4 linked regions of the Homo sapiens genome follow. The protein of the gene in region 4 purifies or fractionates together with the protein of the main gene of each other region. This does not show direct contact. Each region holds a gene or a part of one and is shown on either strand. Other genes may lie near its edges. The genes, in order: RTN4, RTN3, SPTLC2 and FAM241A.

Evidence for each region.
Region 1: the proteins of FAM241A (region 4) and RTN4 purify together in Homo sapiens (affinity purification with mass spectrometry; 4 studies listed by BioGRID and IntAct, with this or other methods). This does not show direct contact.
Region 2: the proteins of FAM241A (region 4) and RTN3 purify together in Homo sapiens (co-immunoprecipitation; 2 studies listed by BioGRID and IntAct, with this or other methods). This does not show direct contact.
Region 3: the proteins of FAM241A (region 4) and SPTLC2 purify together in Homo sapiens (co-immunoprecipitation; 2 studies listed by BioGRID and IntAct, with this or other methods). This does not show direct contact.

What each region holds. Positions count from the first base shown.
Region 1 is NC_000002.12:55,019,426-55,026,453, forward strand, and holds part of RTN4 (reticulon-4), read right to left. Parts: coding exon 5,661-7,028; intron 1-5,660. UniProt on the Homo sapiens protein: Required to induce the formation and stabilization of endoplasmic reticulum (ER) tubules. They regulate membrane morphogenesis in the ER by promoting tubular ER production.
Region 2 is NC_000011.10:63,684,484-63,691,511, reverse strand, and holds part of RTN3 (reticulon-3), read right to left. Parts: intron 1-7,028. UniProt on the Homo sapiens protein: May be involved in membrane trafficking in the early secretory pathway. Inhibits BACE1 activity and amyloid precursor protein processing. May induce caspase-8 cascade and apoptosis.
Region 3 is NC_000014.9:77,606,637-77,613,664, reverse strand, and holds part of SPTLC2 (serine palmitoyltransferase 2), read left to right. Parts: intron 1-7,028. UniProt on the Homo sapiens protein: Component of the serine palmitoyltransferase multisubunit enzyme (SPT) that catalyzes the initial and rate-limiting step in sphingolipid biosynthesis by condensing L-serine and activated acyl-CoA (most commonly palmitoyl-CoA) to form long-chain bases.
Region 4 is NC_000004.12:112,148,445-112,155,472, reverse strand, and holds part of FAM241A (uncharacterized protein FAM241A), read right to left. Parts: intron 1-7,028.

The sequences.
Region 1 (7,028 bases), on a different chromosome or scaffold from region 4:
CAAAGACAATATAAGGAAATCAGAGCTCATCTTGCCCAGACGGTCAAAATTAACATAACCAGTGAGGGACTGATGAATAGCAGATAACTCTAGAAGTGGTGCTATGAGAGGGACACATCATCATCTATACAGTATCATAAATGAACCCATAGCCTCAAATTAATCACTAGGAAACATCGGACAAATCCACTAGGAGGAATGTTCTATTATAAAGTCGGGGGAAGAGAGGCCCTGTGTTCTTTAAAACTGCTAATGTCATAACAAATAAATAAAGACTGAAATGGGAAGTCCTACCCAGAGCAATTGAGCAAGAGAGAAATAAAGGATATCCAAATTAGAAAAGAGGAAGTCACATTGTCCCTGTTTGCAGATGACATGATCTTATATAAAGAAAAACCTAAAGACTACCAAAAACTTGTAAATTCTGTAAAGTTGCAGGATATAAAATCAATAACAAAAATATCGCATGTCTTTACACAAACAACAAACTAGCTGAAAAAGAAATCAAGTAGGAAACTCCATTTGCAATAGCTTAAAAAAAAATACCTCAGAATAAGTTTAACCAAGGAGGTGAAAGACTTCTACGAGGAAATCTACAAAACAATGATGAAAGAAATTGAAGAGGATACAAACAAATGCAAAGAAAGACATTCCATGTTCATGAATCATAAGAGTTAACATTGTTAAAAAATGGCCGTAATATCCAAAGCAGTCTACAGATTCAATGCAATCCCTAATAAAATACCAATGACCTTCTTCACAGGAATAGGAAAAAAAATCCTAAAATCTGTATGGAACCACAAGACTCCAAAAAGCAAAAGCAATCCTGAACAAAAATAAAGCTGGCGGAATCACACTACTAAATTTCAAAATATACTACACAGCTATAGTAACCAAAACAGCATGGTACTGGCATAAAAACAGAAACACAGACCAATGGAACAGAACAGATAACCCAGAAATTAATTAACATATCTATAGCCAATCAATTTTTGGAAAAAAAAAAATGCCAAGAACATTCATTGGGGAAATGCCAAGAACATTCATTGATACTACTACTGAGAAAAAAAATCAGTATTTACATTCCAATAGTAAGAATATAGTTTGTCACAAATTTCTTTGTAAATGGAGGGGGAGGAAGACCAGAATTCATTAGTTTCTTGACAAACTTTACTTCCCAAAATTAATAAAGCACCATCTGCATCACAATACCTTATTCATCTCTCTTGCAAAATCAATCTTTCTTCCCAAAACTAAAACTGATTTCTGCCTACAAAATGTCATTTTAAGAAAACAAGAACAGGAAAGTCCTGGAGGCTCACACCTGTAATCCCAGCACTTTGGGAGGCAGAGGCGGGAGGATCCTTGAACACAGGAGTTTGAGACCAGCCTAGGCAACAAGGCAAGACCTCCTCTCTACAAAAATAATTAGCCAGGCATAGTGACACGAGCCTTTGGTCCCAGCTACTTGGGAGGCTGAGGACCACCTGACCCTGGGAGGTTGAGGCTGCAGTGAGCCATAATCTCACCACTGCACTTCAGCCTGGGCGACACAGCAAGAACCTGTCTCGAAAAAAGAAAAGAAGAACATATGAGATAATAAATGATCTGAGGAAATTAGTATTTTATTATTTAATAGTTTAAATGTTTAAATGCATATACATTAATAAGACCCAGAATTTTTTTAAAAACACACTTAAATATTTCATAATTAGAGATGGCATAAAACTTTTAAGTCATCTGAGAAGAGAGCTTCCCTTATGTTTTATCAGACCACTGCTGTATTTTGGTACATTTGACTTCAGTACACTTGAACCTCCCTTTCACGAAGATACACAGGTAAGTACCTATCCTCACTATAACATAGATCACAATGTTTAACTATGTCCTCAACAGTGTGTCTGTACCAGCTGGCTGTAAGTTGCATAAAGCGCAAAACTTTGTCTTAGTTTCATCTTTTTCCCTGCCCCCCCCGCCAAAAAAAAATCTCATATAGTGCCTGATAGAAGCATGTTAAAGCAACTCTTACCTGCTTTTACACTTTTTTTTTTTTTTGTCTTTTTTTTCTCCCTTTTTTGTGGAGAACGGAGTCTCACTATATTGCCCAGGCAGGTCTCGAACTCCTGGGCTCAAGCTATCCTCCCACCTCTCCCTCCCTGAAAGCTGGGATTACAGGCGTAAGCCATTGTGACTGGCCACTACTTACCTGCTTTTAACAGATGCCTGTTATATAATCAAGTCAAGAAAATTATTAAGTTGCAAGGACTTGAGCTAATCCACCCTTCCTTTTATAGAAAAGGAAAATGACATCTAGAGAAACAAAGTGATTGTCAGTGGTATAGCCAAGACTAAAACCTCAGGTCACCTATATTGTTTTCATTATAGCAATACTGGGTTTCCTTCCCACAACTTTTGTAGAATATATATATTGGGTGTATCTAAATAATTCTCTATTCCCTAGTAAGTTGCTATGATAACTAATATCAAAAAAGGTTAAGTCAAAAAGGCAGGAAATAACAATTTTCTCAGAGAAGGGAGATAAACATATTCTAAAAGAGAATGCCCAAGCATTGCTTACACTTTCTTCCACCATTCCCATTAAGCTTTCAAAGGCAATGCCCCCTTTTCTTCCCTTACTTCTAAACTATTAGGCTATAGATTTCCCAGGTTTAACAAAAACAATCCAAGAAATAGGTGACTCCTGAAATACTGAAATTCCTAAGGGCCACCATCTACTAGAGGACTGCTAGCTTTAAGTTTTGGGAGGAAGCACTAGCGGGGAGGGGAGACTTCAAAGGTGTTGCTACACCGATTACTCCTTGCTCTTCACCCAGTCATCACCAAGCTGCTCTGGGCTTCTGAGACCCTTCTTTCTACTGTTCCCTCCTAAACCATTTTACTGTGCTGTTTGAAACCCCCATTCCACTGTGAACCAGCTCCTCTACTCCTCAACATCTTTACTGAACATTCCTGCCTTTACCTCGCCTTCACTAAAACCTGGCTGTTCCTTGAAGATACTGGTTTCCCTGTGGAACTTGCTAAATGAAGGCTAAATCGTTCTCTCATATTCTACACACCTAAGGGAGGAGTGGGGAGGTCAGTACCCTCTGCTCACCAATGCTGCTTCCAGACTTTTATTTCAGAGACCTTGGGCAAAAGTCTTGGCTATTCCGCTACGTCATTCTCTGTCCTTCCTCATTTCTTCTACCTACCATCCTGCCAGTTACCTCACTGCCCTTTACCAAGGACTCTAACCCCAGTATTCCTCTCCACCCCTAGTCCTGCCATCACCCTGGGTGACTTCAATGTTAGGTAGAAGTGCAATACAGTATCATGGCCTCATAGTTTACTTGACCTCACCTCTAGCAATCTTAATCTGACTACACAGTAGGCCTTTGCCTGATGGCCTAACACTGGCCATTATAATCAACCTGAACTGCTATTCCTCTGAAATTCTAAATTCAACATCCAACACACACACACACACACACACACACACACACACCCTGCTCTCCCGCACATGCATTCTTTCTCTCCCCTACTTTGACCACAATCTCCTATCATTCTGGCATGTATTTATTCCTACTACTATTGGTTCTTAAACCTAATCTGGGCCTTGAGTTCACTGACCATCTACTCTCCTCCTACCTCTCCTACCTTTTTCTATTCACATCCTTCAACTTAGATGCCACAGTCCATCACTTCAAATTACTCTCCTGCTATCACCCTCAACTTTCTTGACTTACTGTCCTTCCACAGGGCCCACCTGCCAAAACACATCCTTGAATCAATACAATCATTTGCCTTCCCTGAACCCATACCTAGGTTGTTTGGCACAATCAAAGAAAAGTCACCCTACCATTTAGACCACCTTTCAACCTTGATTAGGCTCCTAATACAATGCCTTTGGTTTCCCTAGTCAGAGGTATTGCAGATCTCTTCCACCCAAGCATGATCTACTTCATTCCCAGCAAATGAACTAACATACTGCTTTAAAGAACAAACATAAACCATCAAATAATTCCCTCAACTTTCAGTCACAAAACCCTAACAGTATCAATACCCCATACTTTCCTTTCCACTCACTACAATCAAAGCTCTATCGTTCCTTCTCTCTAACACTAATTCTTCCACCTGAACTAGGCAGCACATCCCCATCCCCTTCTGACTTTCTGCCAGCACCTGTAATCAGATTTTCCCCTTCCCACCTTAAAAAAAAAGTCCTACCTCCACTGCATACTCTCCTTCCTGCTTGCTAATATTTTAATTTTTCTCCAATAAAAATCTCAAACTTCTTAAGAGTAATCAACATTTAATAACCACTTACTCAAGTCTCATTCACTTCTCAATCCTAGCCATGCCCATGCACACCACACCATTTGCCGCTGTCATGACAATATCTTCCCTCCTTTTTGACCAACTTGCAATCCTTAACTGACCTCTCCAGTATTTGATAATTTTGACCATTTCTTCCACCTTCAAGTAGTCCTCTTCTCTTGATTCTTCCTAATTGGTATCTGGGGCTTTAATTTCTATCTCTAAGCCCATGACAGACACATACAGCCAAGATCTCTCTCAAGAGCTTCATGTGTATAATATCCATAACTTACTGGATATCTTAGAGGTATGTACATCAATACCAACATATCCAAAACCAAATTTGTATCTTCCCTCTTAAACCTACTTTAATCTCTCATGTTCCCTATCTCAGTTTCTCATACTGCCACCCATACAAGTGCACATGCCAGAAATGAAATCCAGGGTTCCTGGGGTCATCTTTACCTCTTCCCCTCATCCTTTATGTCCCTATCCGTCAAACACCAAGTCCTATGTCTCTGTGCTCATCCCACTGCCTGAATGTTCATAATCTCCTCTTTCTTAGATTACAGCAACTGGTCTACCACTGTTCCAATGGTGATGAGCTGGACTGTACTGCTGAAGCACCAGCACTTAAATACATAAGTATATTCAGTAAATTTATCATAATCACTATTTTAGAGAAAACGCAGCTAAATCAGAATGCTAATAAAGAGCACATGTGCAAATCACCTTGTGCAAATCACCTTATGCAAATCAGGTATGTGGAAAATGGATAGTCAAAAGAAAAAAAGGAGAATCGGTACTTTTCAAAAGAATTCATAATAGCATAACTCATTTTATACTTTTCAACAAAATGTCTACACTCAATATGCCTAACTTTATACCTACCACTGGAAAAGTACTATATTATATAGAAATATTTAAAACATACTATAGAAATTTTCTTTAAAAATTAAATATGGTAATTTCTGGGATAACAAAAACACATCTGAAAATATTTTAATATCTCTTGCTCTTCATGTTATCAAGAAACACAAGTGAAAAAAGAAAGAAAGAAAGAAATAGGTACTAAAGCCAATTCTTATAAACAAAAATATTTTCTATTAATAGTTCCATAGTGCAATATAAAAGTGTAACTGTGTGGAAAAGTTAAGGGTGAATGCTGAGTGCAAGAGAGTTAGAAAAAGCACTAAAACCTTTAACTGAAAAAGTGGAGAAGACTTCTTACCAATGTGACATATGAGACACTATAAACATAATATAAAACACAAAATGTAGTGGAATGTTCCCTAAATCCAAAAGTGGCATGAAAGCACAAAACTGCATATAGATTGGATTACCTGAAGTTTTACTCAGCTCTGCTGAAAATATAGCAGATGGTGATCTGTCCTCTTTTTCTGTATCGGAAGGAAGTTTTTTCTCAGCTTCTTTCACAAGAACTTTGGGTTTAACTATGCTCTCTATCTCTGCTTGAGTGGCCAAAGCAGAAACATCTGGAGGCAATAAGAGCACCTTTGATGTAGCAGACCCATTTTTAGAAAAGTCATCTGAGAAACTGATTTTCTCTTCAACTTTGGGTTGTATGTTCTTCAAAGAAAGGTCATGGGGCAATTCTGTGCAAGGCAATGACCCAGCTCCATCCGGGGCATTAGCAATTTCACTTTTGTGGGATACTTCTAGGTCAGTATATTCCCTGGCTAATTTAGAAAATGAATCAGTTTTAGAACTGATCAATGTAGGGAACTCATCTATAATTTCAATTGGAGATGAATCTGAAAACGTTTCAGTTTCTCTTATCTGTGCTTCCTTAGAAATAAATAAGTCATCATTTGAATAAACTGCAGTACTGAGCTCCTCCATCTGCAAAGGAATTTTCTCCTTTTTGCTCAATGTTGAAACTTCATCAGGTAACAGGGTATCTTTTGTGTTATCTAAACTGAGCTTAAAAGATTCCAAATATGGCTTTCCTCCCTCAGGTGGCAAAGCACTGAGTTTTTCCTTATTTTCATATTCTATCATTGACTCAAATGAAGTCTCAGTGAGACTTTCTTTCACAAGCATCACAGTTTCATCTTGTTTTTGTGGAACGTCAGGTATTGAATCATCACTAAATAAGTCAACTGGTTCAGAATCAGGTGAGGAATCTTCAACTAGCTCAGAATGATCAGGCACTGGCTGTTCAACTTTTGCCATTTCTGAATAATCAGAGAAATCCGGAGCTGGTTCAGCAGAAAGCTTTGTTTCTTTAATTAAATCACATGCAATAGATATATAAGGAGCTTCTGTTTCTTGAAGAGCTGCATTAATATTTTCAGGCTCTTTAATTTCTTCCTTTATTCCTGATACTTTTTTTAGTGATACACTCATGGCCTCTTCATATGGTGGGGGGTTTTCAGGCTCATGTTTTATGCTTTCATAATTAACTGAAGAAGCTTCTAATGGTGATGAGCTGGGCTGTATCACGGAAGCACCAGCACTAGGAACTGCAGAATTCAATGGTGCTTCCATAACAATGTCAGGCAAAACTGGTGAAGGAGTAGCTTCTGACTCTTCAAATGATGGGCAAAGCTGTGCTGCAGGATAGAGTGACTCTTGCATAACTTCTGATGTTTGAACCAAGTCCATTTTTGTTTCATAAGCAATCTTTGTACCAGTAACTTCATTCAATTCACTTTCACATGCTTCCTGTACTAAATCTGGAGTCAGGC
Region 2 (7,028 bases), on a different chromosome or scaffold from region 4:
GCTAAGGCAGGAGGATCGCTTGAGCCCAGGAGTTCAATACCAGCCTAGGCAACATAGTGAGACCTCGTCTCTATCAAAATAAAAATAATTAGGTCGGACGCAGTAGCTCACACCTGTAATCCCAGCATTTTAGGAGGCCAAGGAGGGTGGATCTCCTGAGGTCAGGAGTTCAAGACCAGCCTGACCAACATGGTGAAACCCTGCCTCTACTAAAAATACAAAAATTAGCTGGGCATGGTGGCACATGCCTATAATCCCAGCTACTTGGGAGGCTGAAGCAGGAGAATCGCTTGAATCCAGGAGGCGGATGGTGCAGTGAGCAGAGATCGTGCCACTGCACTCCACCCTGGGTGACAGAGTGAGACTCCATCTCAAAAAAAAAAAAAAAAAAAAAAAAGAATTAGCAATATTAAATCTCAAGAATAAGGAAATCCACAGAGTCAGAAAGCAGATTAATAGTTGTCAGAGAATTGAGGGGAGGGAAGAACGGTGAATTACTGCTAACAGATATGGGGTTTCTCTTTGGGGTAATAAAAATGTTCTGGAATTAGATAGTGGAGATAGCTGTACAACCTTGTGCATACACTAAAACCCACCTTAAAATGGTGAATTTTATGGAGACAGAGGATGAAAAGCCAGTGAGAGTGAGTATGTGGTGTCACAGAAGACAAATTAAAAAAGCATTTCAAGGAGAGAATAATCAATTATGTCAAAAGCTGTTGTGAAAGCATGTTAAGAGGAGGATGAAGTGACCACTGAATTTAACAATGTGGAAAATATCTGGTGAACTTGACTAGAAAGTTTCTGTAGAGCAGTGAAATAAAAAGGCACCTGGCTTAAGAACCGTGGAGCCAGAAATTAAGACTTTTAAATTAAACTGATCACTGAATTCAAAAGGGTAACTGAGCCACTTTTACTACATGTTGCTTCAAATCTTAAAGCGTGGGCATTAAACTCTCTGTGCCTGAGTCCCCATCTGTAAGAAGGGGGTTATATCGCTACCTGTCTACCTCACAGATAAACATAATACAAGTCTTTCCTCTATAGAATATGGCCTCTAGAGGAATGATCTATATTTTATTTACCTTTCTGTCTTCCACAGCACCTGGCAAAGAGCCTTCATGTATGCTCAGTTGTTGAATTAAGGTAACATATGGGCACAACTTAAATCATAAAGCAGTACACAAATGTAAGATATCGTGAAAATCAAGTACTTCTATCTCATACGTAAAATAAAGACAATGCCCTCCACTGAAATATGTTCAAATAACAGGACACAATTTTCATAACAAAAGGTTTTCCAGAATGTCCTTCCATATATCTTGAAGGGCGAGCTACCAATGAGGAACAGGTCAAAAAGCTCACCGTTCCCTCTGGTTAAGTTATGATGATATGGTTACAGGAGATAATAAATCAGTTGATTGGAGAAAACAGGTAAGAATAGTTCTTTGAGACTGGGTGTGGTGGCTCACATCTGTAATCCCAGCACTGTGGGAGGCCGAGGCGGGGGCAGTTCACTTGAGGTCAGGAGTTCGGGACCAGCCTGACCAACATGGTGAAACCCCATCTCTACTAAAAATACAAAAATTAGCTGGGCATGGTGGCACAAGCCTGCAATCCCACCTACTCAGGGGGCTGAGGCAGGAGAATCGCTTGAACCCGGGGGGCGGAGGTTGCAGTGAGCAGAGATCCCACCACTGCACTCCAGCCTGAGCAACAGAGGGGGATTCTGTCTCAAAAAAATAGTTCTTTGAAATAAAAAAAAAAAAATCAAAAATCACAAGAGTGGGCCACTTGCTGATAAGCTCACTGTCTTCTCTGGTTAGGTTACAATGATATGGTTATAGGAGATAATAAATCAGTTGATTGGAGAAAACAGGTAAGAATAGTTATTTGAAATAAAAAAAAAAAATCACAAGAGCAGGCCACTTGCTGATAATCTTCTCCCATACGTAAAATGGAAATGCAAACCCCGTTACAGTATTTAAAGAGATTCTCTCTGAGGTTGCAATATCACAGAGTAACATGTCTTACAAAACTCACAGATGCCCAGAAGACTTCAATGATGCAATCACAAGCAATACTGATTACAGCTAAACTTATTTAACACACACACTTCTTTCAAAACATCAACACCATACCCTATGATCCAAAATAACTCTACAACTAGTAGCTGTCATAAATGAACAGAATAGAAGGTTAAGTCAGTTTTCTGGGCAACTTCTGAATAAGTCAATTATAAGAACAAAATATCGACCTGCTAATTTTTGTCTAAAAAGTTTTACTATGAGTGCTTACTTCAGCAGCACATATACCAAAATTAGAACAATACAAAGAGTATTAGCTAAATTAAGAGAAAAAGTTATACTACAAAATTGATGAATTTTTCACAAGTTTGTATACTTTAGGAGGCTAAATTCATCATCAACAATAAAGTTAACACAAACTATAAGCTAAGTGCACACAACAAATATGCACATTTATATTAGAAAACCTACTTACTTAATGAAGCCTTTGTAATTCTGTTCAGAATTACAAAAATGGTAAATTCTAGGATTATGGGTAAAGAGAAGTGTCTTTCTGCAAAATATACTCTTGACTCAAACAAAATTGGAAAGCTCAACTTTCCCTTTTCCCTTCAACCAGACGTCACCAATTCCTTCATGACCAAACTTCATTTTACAAGGCTTGAAACATGCACAGGACTAGACAGGTAACTCCTATATCAGGATAAATATATTATTTCCTCACAGGATAATTTGATAAAAGCAGTAATATTGGTTTTTATTTTCAGCCCATCTTTAAAACACCAAGAATAAAAACACTGAGGTTCTTACCAGCCACTTAATGAACAACCCCTTAGAAATGACAATTTAGGGTAAGGGTGCACCTACTAAATGTATGTAGATTGGTTGTTTAATTTGATCAGAGTGGTTCCATTACTTGTGAATTTGACAATAAACAAAAACAGCATTAAAAAAAAACTTCTTGGCCGGGCGTGGTGGCTCACGCCTGTAATCCCAGCACTTTGGGAAGCCAAGGCTGGCGGATCATGAGGTCAGGAGATCAAGACCATCCTGGCTAACATGGTGAAACCCTGTCTCTACTAAAAACACAAAAAATTAGCCAGGCGTGGTGGTGGGCACCTGTAGTCCCAGCTACTGGGAAGCTGAGGCAGGAGAATGGCATGAACCTGGGAGATGGAGGTTGCAGTGAGCTGAGATCGCACCACTGCACTCCCGCCTGGGCGACAGAGCGAGACTCCGTCTCAAAAAAAAAAAAAAAAAAGCAAAACACACTTCTTATTCTTGGAGAATAAAAACAATCCAAGTCAGCAGGCATTTGCAGGCCATATTGACATGACCATTCTTGCTGTCTCCTGTATGCTTGCCTCTGTGCTGAAAGGGGTTTCCTAATGTATCATAACAACATTTATTAGTCAGAATCTGCATAAGTATTTAAGCATATTGATTCATGCCAAGCCTTCTGGGAAACATCTTGACTCCTCCCTCTACCTCTTTAACAGACCACCTCAGTGGAAGCGGGTGGCAGCTTTATGACATTAATGTGAAGGGCCACAAACTGAAACAACTGACTCACATGTGGAAAGGGAAAAAAGGCATAACAATAGTCTTTGATTGTGAGGAAGACAGATTTCTCATTTGTACTTGAACTGCTATGTGGTATCTATTAATATGTGCAAGTAGTTTGTAACCTACAAATGGATGTCAAACATTAGGTATTGTTATTTAATAAAGGTCAGGATTTAAGGGTACAAAGCAAATGTGTCTAGGTCACATTGTTGATCTATATTTCATTTCTTCACATTAATGGTACAGTTATTTACTACAGGCAAGACACTGTGTTAAGCCCTATAAATGTGTTCACTTTTTTTTTTTTTTTAGATGGAGTCTCACCCTGTTGCTCAGGCTGGAGTGCAATGGCGCTATCTTGGCTCACTGCAACCTCCACCTCCTGGGTTCAAGTGATTCTCCTGCCTCAGCCTCCTGAGTAGCTGGGATTACAGGATTACACCCAGCTAATTTTTTGTATCTTTAATAGAGGCAGGGTTTCACCATGTTGGCCAGGCTGGTCTCGAACTCTTGACCTCAGATGATCCACCCGCCTTGGCCTCCCAAAGTGCTGTGATTACAGGCGTGGGCCACCGTGCCCAGCCAAATTGTGTTTAATTTTCATACCAACTCCAAGATAGATACTATTATCCCAATTTTCAAGTTAAGGAAACTGAGGCTCAGGACTTGCACAAGATCACATAATTATTAAGAGACAGGGCCAGGATTGAAATCTAGGCATTCCTGGAGCTCAAGTCTGTGTTTTAACACATTACACTGCCACTGATAATCTGACACGAATGTAACACTCAGATGATGTCAGTGTTGGACGGGGGCCACATTCCTTTTTATTTAAGGGTTAACTCAAAACACAAATTACATATTCACATTTGATTAATATGGTAGAACAAAGTGTGAAAATGAAGCCATAAAAAGTACACAGAACAACTAAGTTTCATGAGTGAGGAAAGAAATATTTAAAGCAAAACCTTTTTCAAAAAATTGCCCAAGCTGTTTTTGCTTTGAGCTAATTTCCATGAACAAACATATAAAATGTAGTTTTATTTTGGCATCATGATTTTCTTTTTTCCTTTTCTTTTCTTTTTTTTAAGACAAGTTCTGGCTCAGTCACCCAGGCTGGAGTGCAATGGCACAATCTCAGCTCACTGCAACCTCTGCCCCCAGCTCAAGCCATCCTCCTACCTCAGTCTCCTAAGTGGCTGGGACCACAGGCGCACATCACCATGCTCAGCTAATTCTTGCTTTTTTGTCTTTTTGTAGAGATGGGGTTTCACCACTATTGTCCAGGCTGGTCTCAAACTCGTGAGCTCAAGCAAGCCACCCACCTCAGCCTCCCAAAGTGCTGGGATTACAGGTGTGAGCCACCAGACTCAGCCAACTTTCATAACAACAATAAAAAGCAGTCTCTAGCAAGTATAGAATTTGTTCTTTTTTTTTTTTTTTTTTTTGAGACGGAGTCTCGCTCTGTCCCCCAGGCCGGAGTGCAGTGGTGCAATCTAGGCTCACTGCAAGCTCCGCCTCCTGGGTTCACGCCATTCTCCTGCCTCAGCCTCCCGAGTAGCTGGGACTACAGGCGCCCCGCCACCACGCCCGGCTAATTTTTTGTATTTTTAGTAGAGACAGGGTTTCACCATGTTAGCCAGGATGATCTCGATCTCCTGACCTCGTGATCCGCCTGCCTCGGCCTCCCAAAGTGCTAGGATTACAGGCGTGAGCCACCGTGCCCGGCCAAGTTACAGAATTTCAACATCGTGTCATCAGTAAACTATTAAAGTACTTTTAAAGTTCAGATGATAGACGTGTCTCTATACTTGAGGCCTAATAAAGGCAACTCTTGCTCTGAAATGAACACTGAATATTTCAGTCTCTTTTACCTCAACCTCAAATTTTTGCCTCTGATATCTTCAGTTTCCTTCAAAGGCAGAAATCTGGGAAGCCATCCTGACCCCTGATCCCCATCTCTAAGCATACTACATTGCTGGCTGCATTAGAACCTAAGGCACTAAAGTACAGAGTGCCATCACTCATTCTTGACCTGTATATAGTAACTAATACTTCTAAAATTAATTACTGGACAGGTCAGTCAAGACAAAATTGTTTTCTGTAGGACACCAACCAATCACTTATTTTTCTTTAACTAAAATCAAGACAAGTCTCCAAAACCAAGAGGAGCTTGGTGAAAGAACATGAAGCTGGAGGATGACAGCAATACGTACAGATTTTTTTTTTAAACAATTAAGGTAATTTTTTAGCATCTACATTTTAAATAAGTTAAATTTTGGAATAACAAACTTCATCTTATTTTCATGGTGCAAAAGCCTGAGACACTTCCTTTGTGACATGAAGAAAAACATCCAGCAAGGAGGAAAGGCTTCTGCAATAAAAATGATTACAACACATTGCAGTAACTTTTTTTTTTTTTTGAGATGGAGTCTTGCTGTGTCGCCTAGGCTGGAGTGCCATGGTGTGATCTCAGCTCACTGCAACTCCCGCCTCCTGGGTTCAAGTGATTTTCCTGTCTCAGCCTCCCGAGTAGCTGAGACTACAGGTGCCCGTCACTGTGCCCGGCTAATTTTTGTATTTTTTAGTAGAGACAGGGTTCCACCATGTTGTTCAGGCTGGTCTCTAACTCCTGACCTCAGGTGATCCAACCACCTCAGCCTCCCAAAGTGTTGGGATTACAGGAGTGAGCAAGCGTGCCTGGCCCCACACTGCAGTATCTTAAGGTAAACTTTTATGTTCAAGTAGTGACCCAACAAATGAGGATCTTGCATTGGGCCCACCAAAACTGTATTAGTGCTTTTTAGACAATATGAATGCACATTTGCAATGGATAAGCATTTAAGATAAGAGTCTCTTGGCTGGGCTCAGTGGCTCATGCCTGTAATCCCAACACCTTGGGAGGCCGAGGTGGGCGGATCACTTGAGGTCAGGAGTTCAAGACCAGCCTGGCCAACATGGCAAAACCCCATATCTAGTAAAAGTACAAAAATTATCTGGGCGTGGTGGTGCATGTCTGTAATCCCACCTACTCAGGAGGCTAAGGTGGGAGAATGGTTTGAGCCCAGGAGACAGAGGTTGCAGTGAGCCAAGATCACACCACTGCACTCCAGCCTGGGCTACAGAGCGAGACTCCAAAAAGAGTTTCTCTTTAGTTTATTTCTCAAGTGTGCCTTTCTAGCTCGTAAATTTGATAATTTATTCAACAAATACTTACCAAGTACTACTATATATCACTGTTTTAAGTGCTAATAGTGATACGTGTCTACAGCACATCTAAGAAATACAAATTCTGTAATAAAATTTTACTAAGAAATAATGGGTAAAGCTGGTCACAGTGGCTCCCATCTGTAATCCCAGCACTTTGGGAGGCCGAGGAGGGCAGATCACATGAGGCCAGGAGTTTGAGACCAGCCTGGCCAACATGGCAAAACC
Region 3 (7,028 bases), on a different chromosome or scaffold from region 4:
TGTCTTTTAATGAACAGGAGAGAAGTCAGAAACGTCTAGGATCACTTTACACTCTCAAGAGTATGTTTCTGTGCTTGAAGAGATGAATGAATGTGTATAGTAAAAGAACAACTCTTGGATTTGGGTTTAGAATTTGATGAGCTAGATGCTGTGTTAAGGAGTTATGAAACAATCACACATTGCTGTTTAGTGATGACAGTAGACACACAGTTTTCACAATAGTAACAGTTGAACAATAGAGCAGTAATTTTTCCTCTCTGCTATTCAGATGAGTGGGAGGAGCACAAACCTTTATTTGAGGTAAGGTGTGGCAATTTGCCCGAGGGAAACTTTTACATTAGCATTGGAAAGAACCTTTGGGAGTTTATTTAATTCAGTCCTTTATCTCTTTGTAGGAGTTTATTAAAATCAGTCTTGATAGAAAATTCTGTACTGTTTTTAAAGATCTCCAGGGGATTTGCAGCAAGTTTTTCTCTATAGCAAATTGGATTATTATTCCATGATCTTAATTACCAAATTTCTTCCTGTGGATTTAACATTTGATGAAATAAATGCCATGTTTTGGTTGCACCTGAAATATAGTAGTTTGTTTGTGTGTTTGTTTTTAAAACTTCACGTTAACAGCTCTTTTTAAAAGAGCTTCCATTTCTTTATAGAAGTTTTGAGATTTAGGTTTTCCTTTTACTTTCCTGAGTTAGTTAATAAGTGTGAAAGAAAAAAAGTTATCTACCTTTGAGACAGTTTTGACCCTAACTTTTTTCCCTTTGGGTGTAGTTTTAATGAGATATTAGAAGGATGAGAGCTCTCTGGCTTACAGAATAAAAAATTCTATCTCAAGGAATTGGGGCAAAAGTTGTGTTCTTATGTTAAATAATAAGCAAAGTAGAAAGAACAAAGTGTTAGTCTTGCTTCTTAGGAGGAGGCAAATAAATAACTAATAAAGCTGGTTTACTAAATAGCTACTAGCTTTTGTTTCCACTGAGGGAGAAACAGTAACTGGGGGTTTATATGTGATAGTTAAGGAAAAGGAGACGATAGTTATGAGGCTAGAACAGTAGAAATAGTTAGAATAGTCATATATCTATTTAGATTTAGCAGATCCTGATAAGATACCTCAGATACCTGAAGGCTTTTCAGAAATAATGTAATTTACAACTTGGAGGACAAGATTTTCATTTCAGTTTTCACTCTAAGGGGAAGCATATCTTGATTCTTACATAGCTGCATCTGAAGAATTCCAGAGTTATTTGAGATACTCAGGAATTTTCTTTAACAGGAATTCTTGGGAAATGTGTAAGCAGCTATGTTCTTAAGATAGTATTTTAGAACTAGGATGTTCAGAAAAGTCAGACTTGCCCACTTTTTAGGGTTTGCCCATGTGCCATAGAAATTTGCACCGCTTTGAGCAAGACAGTTAATTGGTTGATTTAATTAGATTCAGTTTTTGGAAGAAAGAAGCAGTGTTTATTGGTAGAATAGGCAATTCAGAGGGATGGGTAGAGGCACTGTTTGCATTCTGAGTGGGTGTGCCATACTTGATTAAATAAATGGTTTGTGGACTCAAAGTCAGTTCCCTTCTGGGTAGTTTCTGAGAAGCTTCTGTAATATAATTCACAATTTGTGACCGATAAAAAAGTAAGTCCTTTGCTCTTGACCCATTTACTGTTAGAAAATTTATCTTAAGTTTGTCTTTAAGACTACTTTTTATTGCAAAGCTTGAGGCAGCTATTCTTCCTTTTTTAAAAAAATAATTTTTACTTCTCATTATAGAAATAATACATGTTTAATGTGGGATCATAAAACATTGAGATAATCTCTGCGTTAGGTTTTTTTTTTTTTGAGACGGAGTCTCACTCTGTCGCCCAGGCTGGAGTGCAGTGGCGCCATCTCAGTTCACTGCAGCCTCCACCTCCCGGGTTCAAGCGATTCTCCAGCCTCAGCCTCCTGAGTAGCTGGGATTACAGGCATGCGCCACCACGCCTGGCTGATTTTTGCATTTGTAGTAGAGACAAGGTTTCACAGTGTTGGCCAGGCTGGTCTCGAACTCCTGACCTCAGGTGATCCACCTGCCTCCGCCTCCCAAAGTGCTGGGATTACAGGCGTGAGCCACCACGCCTAGCCGGAGGTTTGTTTTTTAATGTGGTCTATTGTAAATCCATCTGCTACTTTCCGTTAATTTCTTTTCTTTCTTTTTTTTTTTTTTTTTGGCGAGATAGGGTCTCGCTCCAGCCTGGCCTGCAGTAGCACAGTCATAGCTTACTGCGGCCTCAACTTCTCGGGCTCAAGCGATCCTCCCATCTCAGCCTCCCAAGTAGCTGGGTCCACAGGTGTGCACCACTACAGTGGGCTAATTTTTTTTTTTGAGACAGAGTCTTGCTCTGTCACCCAGGCTGGAGTGCAGTGGCGCGATCTTGGCTCACTGCAAGCTCTACTTCCCAGGTTCACACCATTCTCCTGCCTCAGCCTCCCGAGTAGCTGGGACTACAGGTGCTCACCAACACACCCGGCTAATTTTTTTTTTTTTTTTGTATTTTTAGTAGAGACAGGGTTTCCCCATGTTAGCCAGGATGGTCTCGCTCTCCTGACCTTGTAATCCGCCTGCCTCAGTCTCCCAAAGTGCTGGAATTACAGGCTTGAGCCACCATGCCTGGCCTTTTTTTTTTTTTTTTTTTGTAGAGATGGGTCTTACTATGTTCCCCAGGCTAGTCTCTTTTTTACTTAAACAAACAAACAAAAATAAATAAAAATATATATATATAAAGAGAGAGGGAGACAGAGAGAGAGGGAGACAGAGTCTCACTATGTTGCCCAGGCTGATCTCAAACTGTTGGGTACAATCGATCCTCCTGCCTTGGCCTCCTGAAGTGCTGAGATTATAGGTGTGAGCCACCGCACCCAGCCACCCAGGCTGGTCTCAGACTCCTGACCACAAGCATCCTCCTGCTTCAGCCTACCAAAGTGCTGGGATTACAGCCACTGTAGCAGACTATTTTGTGATAATTTCTAAGTACAGTGAAATATGCGGTTGTACTGATACTATGGGTGTGATCCAGTCTTACTCCAAAAAATAGGTATTAAGGGCTGGGCACAGTGGCTCATACCTGTAATCCCAGCACTAAGGGAAGCCAAGGTGTAAGGATTGCTTGAGCCCAGGAGTTCAAGATCAGCCTGGGCAACGTGGCGAGACCCCATCTCTATTTAATTAAAAAATAATAAGGTATATGACCAGGTACCGTGGCTCACGCCTGTAATCCCAGCACTTTGGGAAGCCGAGATGGGCGGATCACTTGAGGTCAGGAGTTTGAGACCAGCCTGGCCAACATGGTGAAACCCCGTCTCTACTAAAAATGTAAAAATTAGCCGGGTGTGGTGGTGTGTGCCTATAATCCCAGCTACTCTGGGAGTCTGAGGTAGTAGAATCGCTTGAACCCAGGAGGTGGAAGTTGCAGTGAGCCAAGATGGTGCCACTGCACTTCAGCTTGGGCGACAGTGAGACTCTGTCTCAACAAAACAAAACAAAACAAAACCTCAGTTAGATACCATTTCACACCACTAGGATTGCTAAAATAATAAACCAGGTATTAAGTGTTCATGAGGATATAGAGAAATTAGAATCCTGATACATTGCTGGTGGGATTATAAAATGATGCAGCCACTTTAGGAAACAGTTAAACATAGAGTTAGCATGTGGCCCAGTAATTCTACTCCCAAGAAAAATGAAACATATGTTCCTGCAGAAACTTGTATATTAATTATAATAGCAGCATTGTTGATTGATTGATTGATTGATTCAGGGTGTTACTGTTACCCAGGCTGGCAGGACATGGCTCACCGCAGCCTCCACCTCCTGGGCTCAATCAATCCTCCCACCTCAGCCTCCCAAGTATCTGGGACTGCAGGCATATGCCACCATGAGTGGCAAAATTTTTTTTTTTTTGAGACAGAGTCTCACTCCGTTGCCCAGGCTGGGGTGCAGTGTGGCTCACTGCAACCTCCACCCCACTGGTTCAAGCAGTTCTCCTGCCTCCGCCTTCCGAGTAGCTGGGACTACAGGCACATGCCACCACGCCCAGCTAATTTTTTATATTTTTAGTAGAGATGGGGTTTCACCATGTTGGTCAGGCTGGTCTCAGACTCCTGACCTAAGTGATCCATCCGCTTCGGACTTCCAAAGTGCTGGAATTACAGGCGTGAACCACTGTGTCTAGCCCCACGTTATTTATAATAGCCAAAAAGTAGAAACAATCCAAATGTCTATCAACTGATGAGTAGATAAAATATGGTATATCCATATAAAAGGATATTATTCAGCAATACTACTGAAGGAATGCAGTACTAATACATGCAGGAGAATACTACATTGTTTATGGCCATGTGTTTATATAGTGAAAGTATTTAAAAATACAGGGGAATGATAAACACCAAATTCCCAATTCTTCTGAGGAGGAAAGGAAATATAGCATTTCCCCAGGACAGACTTCTTAAAAGGATTGGAGAACTACTTAAACATGTCAGATCTTGACACTGTCCTGATGGCCTCCTGTCACTAATAACAGAATACAAAATGGGGTTTACAAGGCCCACCATGAACTTTCCCATCCCTCTCTGACTTCATATCCTGCCAGGTCACTGCTTTCTAGCCAATCCGGGCTTTCTGATGTTCCCCAAACACATTGCCATCAAGCACCCCTCCCTGGGGCCTTATTATTATTATTATTATTATTATTATTATTATTATTATTATTTTGAGATGGAGCCTCAATCTGTCACCCAGGCTGGAGTGCAGTGATGTGATCTCGGCTCACTGCAACCTCCGCCTCCAAGTTCAAATGATTCTCCTGTCTCAGCCTCCCAAAGTGCTGGAATTACAGGCGTGACCTACCACGCCTGGGGTCCCTGGGGCTTTAGCCTTTACAGTTACCTCAGCCTGGAAAGCTTTTTCACAGAGTTCTCTTCCCTACTCCAAGTCCATCTGCTTACACCTTACCTCCACCCTGTTTAAAATGCTCTTTTTCCACGATTTTATTCTGATTGTAGCAGTGTGATCTGATACAGTATATCTATTTGCTTATCTGTTGTCTGCCTCTCTCACAGGAGTGTATTTCTAGTGCTCAGATCATGCCTAGCTCATAGCAGGGACTCAATAAGTATTGAATGAATAACTTTAATGTTTTATTTAATGGAAAAAAGATCTAAAGCATATAAGCTAAATCTTAAGTTTTGATAAAGCTAGATGTTGAATACAGTTTTATTTCTATTTTTTTGATGATAATTACTGTGTCATATTTCATACATACTCTGCTGGTTGACAAAAACTAGCTCCCTAAAATAATGTTACAGACATAAGTAAGAAATGGATTGTGGTGACACATAAGCTGTTAAAGAAACCCGTAGCCTAATTTATAGTGTATCAGGTTTGCAAGTGGTTTAAAACAATAGCGGTTTACTGAATGTTCTTACTAGCGTGAGGGGAGAGCTTGTGAGAAGTAGGAAGAGGCCAGAGAAGGTCCTGGGGTCTGGCACACTCTGATATGCTTCATCACCTCTCCCTAAGCTCTCCCTACAGGGCAGTGGGGCCAGTGGTGACTTTTGCGGCACCCTCTCCATTGTCTTACCAAGGGCTTCAGCTGTGAGACGCCGGTTGGTGCTACAAGGAAGGGGAAACGTGTCAGCTCTTTCCTCTGCTCTTTTCTCACATTGATTTCAAATGCCAAGAAGCTGGGCTGAGAAACCGGGCTTGTGATCCTGGTTGTACTGCAGTCCACCATGTGCTGGAGAGCTCTGCAGGTTGTGCTAAAGGGTAGTGTCTTTATTGCCTCCTGTATAAGCTTGACTTTTACATAGGCAAGCAGGTTATTTCCAGGACAACTAAATTAGTTGGTGCGAAACCTCATTTCCTAGAAACCCATTTTCTTAGTAGAGGAAACCCATATAACCATTTGTCTCCATGTAAGTGTAGCTAATAACATGAATAACAAAAATAGCTAATTATTTAAATAGCAAAAATAAGTATGGAAGATGAATTTGCAGTAAAATTCTAATATTAAGCCACTGATTATTTTAAAACAATCAGATTAAGTTGTAGTACCTCTGAAATAATTAAAGGAAAATTTGATTCTTAGAAAATCTCAATTCATTGGAAAGCCATGGAATTAATAAAATAAAAAAAGAAAATCTCAGGCAATATAAACTAAGGAATGGCAAATGGAAAATGTATTGATTGGTGGAAAAGTAATTGCGGTTTTTGACATTGAAAGTAATTACTTTTGCCATTACTTTTAATGGCGGAAACCATTTAATGGCAATTACTTTTGCACCAACCTATAAATAATTGGACTCTAGTTCCAACTTTGATATTTAGCTTTCCCATGACTGTTGACAAATTGCTTAATCTACTTTCCTTGATTTTGTCAGTCAAATGAGGAGGAAGAGACAGCTTGAGAAACATTTGTAAGAGAAATGCTTATTACTTTGTATGTGTTTTTCGTCTTACATATTAAATATAAATTCCTTTAGGTGATATTCTTTAAAATGATTTCCTTACTTCCTTTTATATTTACATCCATTTTCTCTTAAAAAAACAAACAAACAAAATACTGCACAATTCTTGAAGACAAGGATTACCTCTTACCTCTTATTTGTTTCATGAAATATAGAGTACAATTTTTTTTTTTTTTGAGATGGGTCTTGTTCTATCACCCAGGCTGGAGTGCAGTGGCGCCATCATGGCTCACTGCAGCTTCAACCTTCTGGGCTCAGGAGATCCTCCTATCTCAGCCTCCCCAGTAGCTGGGACTACATTCATGCACCACCACATCCGGCTAACTTTTGAAAATGTTGTGTAGAGATAGGGTTTCACTATGTTGTCCAGGCTGGTTTTAAACTCCTGGGTCCAAGCAATCCTCCCGCCTTGGCCTCCCAAAGTGTTGGGATTACAGGCGTGAGCTCCTGTGCCCAGCCTAGAGTACAGTTCTTGACATATAGATAGAAATTAAGTATTTGTAGAATGAGTGGAAAAAAAAATGAAA
Region 4 (7,028 bases):
CATTGTTTTATACTTACCTCCCACTAAACTACATAGACCCAATAAAAGAAAAAAGATTTTTTTGAGGGGATGGATAAAAACAATGAGAATATCAACTAGAACTTAGTCTTTGAAATGATTATAAACAGAAAAATACCAAAATTTGCATTCATTTTTCATTTTAACTACCGGGCTTCAATATTTTTAAAATTATAAGTCATAATTGCAGACACACAAATGAAACCACCAGGTAGTCAAAAAGATACACTCAATTTCAGTAATATCTAACAGACGTATTGGAACAGCTGCCTATTGTAGAGAAAGAAATGGTTATGCAATGGAAAAATAATTAAATAAGAGAAGGGCTTTTCATGAACTAATGATATATAACTGTGGGCCACGAACTCAAGAATATGCCTAACTCAAGCCTCTTTTTTTGTGGCGGGGGAGGGTGGTGGGCGCAGACGGAGTTTTGCTCTGTCGCCCAGGCTGGAGTGCAGTTTGCGATCTTGGCTCACTGCAACCTCTGCCTCCTGGGTTCAAGCGATTCTTCTACCTCAGCCTCCTGAGTAGCTGGGATTACAGGTATTCCCCACCATACCCGGCTGATTTTTGTATCTTTTTGGAGAGGCGGGGTTTCGCCATGTTGGCCAGGCTGGTCTCGAACTCCTGGCCTCAGGTGACCCGCCCACCTCAGCCTCCCAAAGTGCTGGGATTACAGGCATGACCCACCACACCCTGCTCAAGCCTCTTTCTGATTTCAAACTGCAGGTTAAGACATTTCTACATTTTATACTTTTTCAAGAATCTACTTTTTTAAAAAAAAATATGAAATCTCTGGTGACATTACTTAGTACCTTGCATATGCAGGACAATATGCTAGATGCTACTACAAGATGGGTAAACTTATCCATTAAAAGTAGCCAGGCTGGGCACGGTGGCTCATGCCTGTAATCCCAGCACTTCGGAAGGCCAAGGCAGGGAAATTGCTTGAGGCCAGAAGTTCATAACCAGCCTGGGCAACACGGCAAAACTCCATCTCTACTAAAAATACAAAAATTAGCCAGGCATGGTAGTATGCACCTGTAGTCCCAGGAACTCGGTAGCCTGAGGCACAAGAATTGCTTGAACCTGGGAAGTGGAGGTTGCAGTGAGCTGAGATCCTACCATTGCACTCCTGCTTGGGCAACAAAGGACTCTGTCTCAAAAATAAAAAAATAAGAAATAAATTTTAAAAAATAAAGTATCAAACTTAGGGGAAAAAAGTAGTCAAAATCAAATATCTCTCCTGAAAAATGACTTTCCTTCTCAATTCTCAATTTGTGGCAGTGAAAATTTCGCTTCTGCTGTTATTACCTCTAAAACTCATGGAATAAGAAATCCTCAATTCAGTCAGACTGATGGAATTTGCAATCATGCAACATCAAACTTAAATTCCCTACCTCTGTAGGCCATCTGCAGACATTCAAGTAAAATTTAATTAAGAGGATACAAAACAAAAATTAAATTATTTTGGATTAATTGGAAGAGGAAATAAAAGAAATTCTCAAACACAGATATTTAAAAAGTTACATGAAAATAAATACTGTAAAAACCACAATGGGAATTTAACTTTCTTAACATTATGTTTAGATATTAAGTATTAATGATAATTTTATCCTTTATTTTCCATAAAGTTAAAAACATTTGTACCATGCTTTCCTTTTGATTAGAACTCTGATAAGCTGCAGTTGTTGCCCTAAGAAAACAGCAAGAAATAAAGCCAATCACTTCCTCTTCCTATGCCAAGATAAGACTCAGCTGCCAATGAAGTTAAATGGCTGGGGGCGGTGCCGGGGGAAACACTGGGTATGGGGAAAAAGATCAGAAGATAGAAAGTATCTTCTGCATCAGGTTGGTTAGAAACTCGGTTTATCTGCTCAAAAGAAGCTACATTTCAAATGTCTTATTAATTCTCTCAAACACACATAAACACAATGAAATAAAACATAACTAGTAGGAACAAGGTTTTCGGAGATAGGTGGCTGTTACTGGAAGATAAGATTATGACTCCAGAAAAGACAGAAAATGAAGACAGTGTTGCTAAGTCTTAAAGAACACATGAATAGAGACACAGAATTTCTACATATTTCTGTTACAGCAAGACTGATGTCATGGTACTTTGAGTTTTTCCTTTTAATCTTGCCTTATCACTTCTTTTGAATAGGAAACTGAGAATAGTTTGTACAGAGGAGGTGGGTATTTTTCCTCTCAAGGATTAGTGAGCAACAAGGGGGAAAAGAAACCAACTAGAGATCTACATAAAAAACAACATAATTTAGGTTGACAGGTTTAATTTTTTCTTTAGAGATTGTCTATTCTAAACATTAGATACATTGTTTCACAATCTTAACACTTTGTTCAATAAATATTCTATAAATTTGAGAATTACATGTACTAAAAACACAGTTCTATGATGTGTTAGTTGAGGGAAATAAGGGGAGGAAAACCAGAGAAAAAGAAGAAAAATAGAAAAGGTGAGGGAGAAATAAGGAGCAAATATTTATTGAGTGCCTCCATGTGTTAGGCATTTTACATACAAAATGAGACTGAATCCTCATAAAAACTTTAAGAGGTGGGTAGCATCATACCCATTACAAATGAGGAAATTGAATCTCTGACGGATTAAGTAATCAGGATCACGGGGGCTAATAAAGAGTAAAACCGGGATTCAAAATTAGATCTGTCATACTTCAACCCCCTTTTCATTGTTTCATAATGCTCAGCTTCTGCACTGAAGTGGAAGAGGTAGGGGAAGATGTATGCAGAAGAAGAGAAAGTGGTTGAGATGCGTGGGGAGGGAAAAAACACATGAGAGAACGAGACTCAACAGAGACAGAAAGGAGATGGGTGGTAGGAAAGAAAGGCAGAAAAGGAATGTGTGAGAAAGCAAAATACAGCAAGTTGCATACGAGGAGCTGCTAGAAGAGACACAGAGAAAAGTTTGAAATTCTGTTTAAAATACAGGTTTCAAGCAAATAAACAATTTTAACCTATCTATTGGAATATCTATTATCAGAGTAATTACTTTTGACAACTCAAAGGACTGTAACCCTTACATATTTTGAATATTGTTTCTCAACTTTGGCACTATTGAAATTTTGTGCCAGATAATACTTCGCTGTAGGGGACTATGGCATTATACGATGTTTACCAGCATTCCTGGCCTTTTCCTATTAGATGTCAGTACCACCTCCTTAGTTTCAGCAATAAAAAAATGTCCAGACATTGTCAAATGCCCCCTATGGACAAAAGGCCCCCAGTTGAGAACCACTGATTTAGAAGTTCCAGTCTGGATGATTTAAAAAAATGAACAAAAGATGCCTATCAAATGCAAAATTATTCCCTGAGTTACTCTAGTGACTGGATGTCCTTAGGAACAAGATGAGATTAAGTTAGGGCAGAATTCAACTAAGCTCATAGCACTTATTACAATATTGCTTGCAAACTGCTTTTAAAATACGTGAAAGGAAGTGAGTATAAACTAATATTTAGTTTTGAACTACACCATCTAAAGTAGGGCAGAAAATTTGTCAGACTGTTTTTCCATCATGTAATGTGCTTTTTGTATTTGTGAAACAAACAAACAAACAAAAAACACTAGCTTTGGTGTTCGGAAACCTGGGTTCTAGTCTGCTCTAGCATGAGTTAGCTGTAGGACCTACAGCAAATAACGTGGCCTAGGGAACAACTATTGGCTTCTCATATTTTACCAAGAGTTTAAATATACACTTCTAAGAAAATAGTTAAACAACTTCATATGTATATATTACTGATACTATGTTGAAGGGCAAGTGTGGTGAATACAGTATATTGACTTGCTTATTCTCCATTCCCTTGCCAAAATGTGGTCCATGGGCACAGCATCAGCATCACTTAGGAGTTTGTAGAGATGCAAAATCTCAGACCTCACTCCAAACCAACTGAATCAAAATCTGCATTTAATAAGAGATGATTCCTATGCACACTGAAGTTGAGGAATACTTGTGTCAGTTTCCATTGCTATAAAAAAATCAGACACAGACAATATAGCACTGGATAATTTATAAAGAAGAGAGGTTTATTTGGCTCATGGTTCTGCAGGCTGTACACGAAACATAGTGCTGGCATCTCCTTCTGGTAAGGGCCTTAGGAAGCTTACAATCATGGCAGAAGGTGAAGGGAGAGCAGGCAGTGTCACATGGCAAGAGGGAGGGAGGGAAGGAGAGAGAGGGAGAGAGGTCCCAGATTCTTTTAAACAACCAGATCTTGTGTGAACTAAGTGGGCGACAATTTACTTGTCACCAAAGGCATAGCACTAAGCCGTTTATGAGGGATCTACCCCCATGATCAAAACACCTCCCACCAGATCCCACCTCCAACACTGTAGATCACATTTCAGTATGAGATTTGGAGGCAACAAACGCCCAAACTATATTAATGCTGTTCTGCTTTTCGCCTCAGGTGGTTTTCTAATTGCAGAGGCTGGAAAACTTAAAATTGCCTTTCTCAGATTTCGTTTCAGTTAGGACTTTGGTCCAAAATTAGGCCTAACAGCTAACACTCACATGCTAGATAGCTATGTGCCAGAGACTGCTCTAAGTACATCTCATATATTATTAATTCATATAATCCTTCCAATAATCCTATGAAGTTGTTACAATTATTCCCATTATGCAGATGCAGAAACTGCAGCCCAGAGAGGTTAGTTACTTGCCTAAAGTTACAGTCAATAAAAGGCAAACCCAGGTAACCCTGATCTAGAATCTGTACTGTTAATCATATTTCTACTGATAGATCAAAAGGCATGGACCCCCCTCACTGAACCCCCCATTTTGTTTTCTTTTTTACAGATCATCTCATGGAACACACTTTGGCAAATGCTGTTACAGAAGTTCCTTCATTTATTTACTTACATTTATCTATGAGCCAGCATTGTTCTGAAAGTTCTAGGCATTGCCAAAGGCAAGAAATAGAAATGAGACATTATCATTTGAAAGGAAGCAAAATTATTTTTATCTATAAACTGGATAATTATATACCTAGAAGATGCAAATGAATCAAGTCTAAGAGCTACTAGTATTTATTAGTACCAGTATAAAAATTTAGAAAGATGGCCAGTTAAAAATGAAATACATAAAAGCCAATAGCTAGAAACCACCAACAAAATATGATATGGAAAAAATCCTTTTCATAATACCAACAAAAATATAAAAACTTAATACAGACTTTAATATAATCCTTAATACTATAAAAGATTATAAAGCAAGGCAGAAAGTACATTATTCAATGATTAGGACAAAAAAAGATCAGCTCCATACTTCATACAATATAGAAAATCATTCTAAAGAGATTAAATATATAGAGTAAAAAATTAAACCATAAATGCACACATACAAAAGAAAACATAGGCAAATATTTAACTGATTGTAAGATTAGAAAAAATTTCTTAATATGTATAGAAAGAGATACGTGTATACATGTGAGTGGTGTGTGTATATACGAAATTACCAAAAAAATTCCTTTAATAAAAATTCAAAGCATTATCAAATTTTAAAAAACATAAATAAAATTATAAAGTAAATAGCAAGCAGAGAAAATATTTACAGCCAATGTGAAAATAAGGGATTAATATCCTTATAATGCCAAAAGAAAAAAAATGACTAAAAAGAAATACAAATGCCTAATAAATATATGAATGGTTTAGTAAACCTCTCCAGCAACAGCTTACAATATGATAGAAGTTTCACCTATGAAATTGGCAATGATTATAAACTATATTGTTCATTGCTGGCATGGATGGTTTCCAACTGGCCTTTTTACACACCAGTGCTGCAAGTGTAAATGAGTACAACCTTTCTTGAATTAAATTCTTTAGGATGTTTCAAGAGGCTTCAAAGAGTTTGACTCATTGACCTAGTTCTTCTACTTCTAGGAATCTATACCAGGGTAGAAGTTTAAGGATTTACAAGCAAATATTTTCAGACAGCACGATTTATAAAAGAAAGCTTGAAGCAACTTCAATGTGCGGTGTTAGGGGAATGAATTATTTGGCAGCCCTAAAGAGAGTTTTCACATAGAATTTCCATAACATGGGAAAATGACACAACCTTTTGTAAAAGAAGACACAAAATTATATTTATATTAAAACATATTAAAAATACATGTGTGGCTGGGCACAGAGGCTCAGACCTGTAATCCCAGTACTTCGGGAGGCTGAGACGGGAGGATTGCTTGAGGCTAGTAGTTTGAGATTAGCCTGGGCAACATAGCAAAACCCTATCTCAAAAAAAAAGTGTGTATATATGCATATACACATAGACAAATGAATATACTGTAGTAATACCAAGTTTCATATTTGATATCAAAATATTTGATATCAAAATCCCAAAATAGAGTGGGATTTCAAAGGCTTTTTTCTTCTTTAGATCTTTCTATAGTTCTAATTTTCCAAAGCACACATTACTTTTATAATCATAAAGACGTTAAAGCTAGAGTTAATAATTCGAAAGTCAATCTAAGGATAATGGGACTTCCCTATTCTCTAGGTAAGAGGGTCATGTTAGGTTATTTCAGATTGTGAGTGACCTGTACATTGTGCCACATCTAAGCAGATGCTATTGACATTTAAGGCATATAATAATGGACTAGAGATGTTTAGCCTTTCAGCTATGCATCAGGGCACAGAAACTCTTACATAAAGCCACCTGGCATTCACCCTCATGAACATACTTGGATCATCTCTCATACACACAATTACCAACACATATATGGAATAGCTGTGTCCTGTCCCTTCAGTTTCTTGGACATTCCCTGAAATTGCTTCTTTCCCTTGCTTATCTCTCTTTAGACACCTGATCCTATTTCAAACCTGGCACAGTTTCTTCATCTACAGGACTTGATTCATTCTCCCAAGGCCTCCTTTCTTAAGTGACTTGATTTTAACCAGGCATCCTTTGTCAATCGCCCTACCTGGAAAGACTCAGGCCAGAATGACAGAAGAACCTTCATTTTTTGCTCAAATGGAGTAG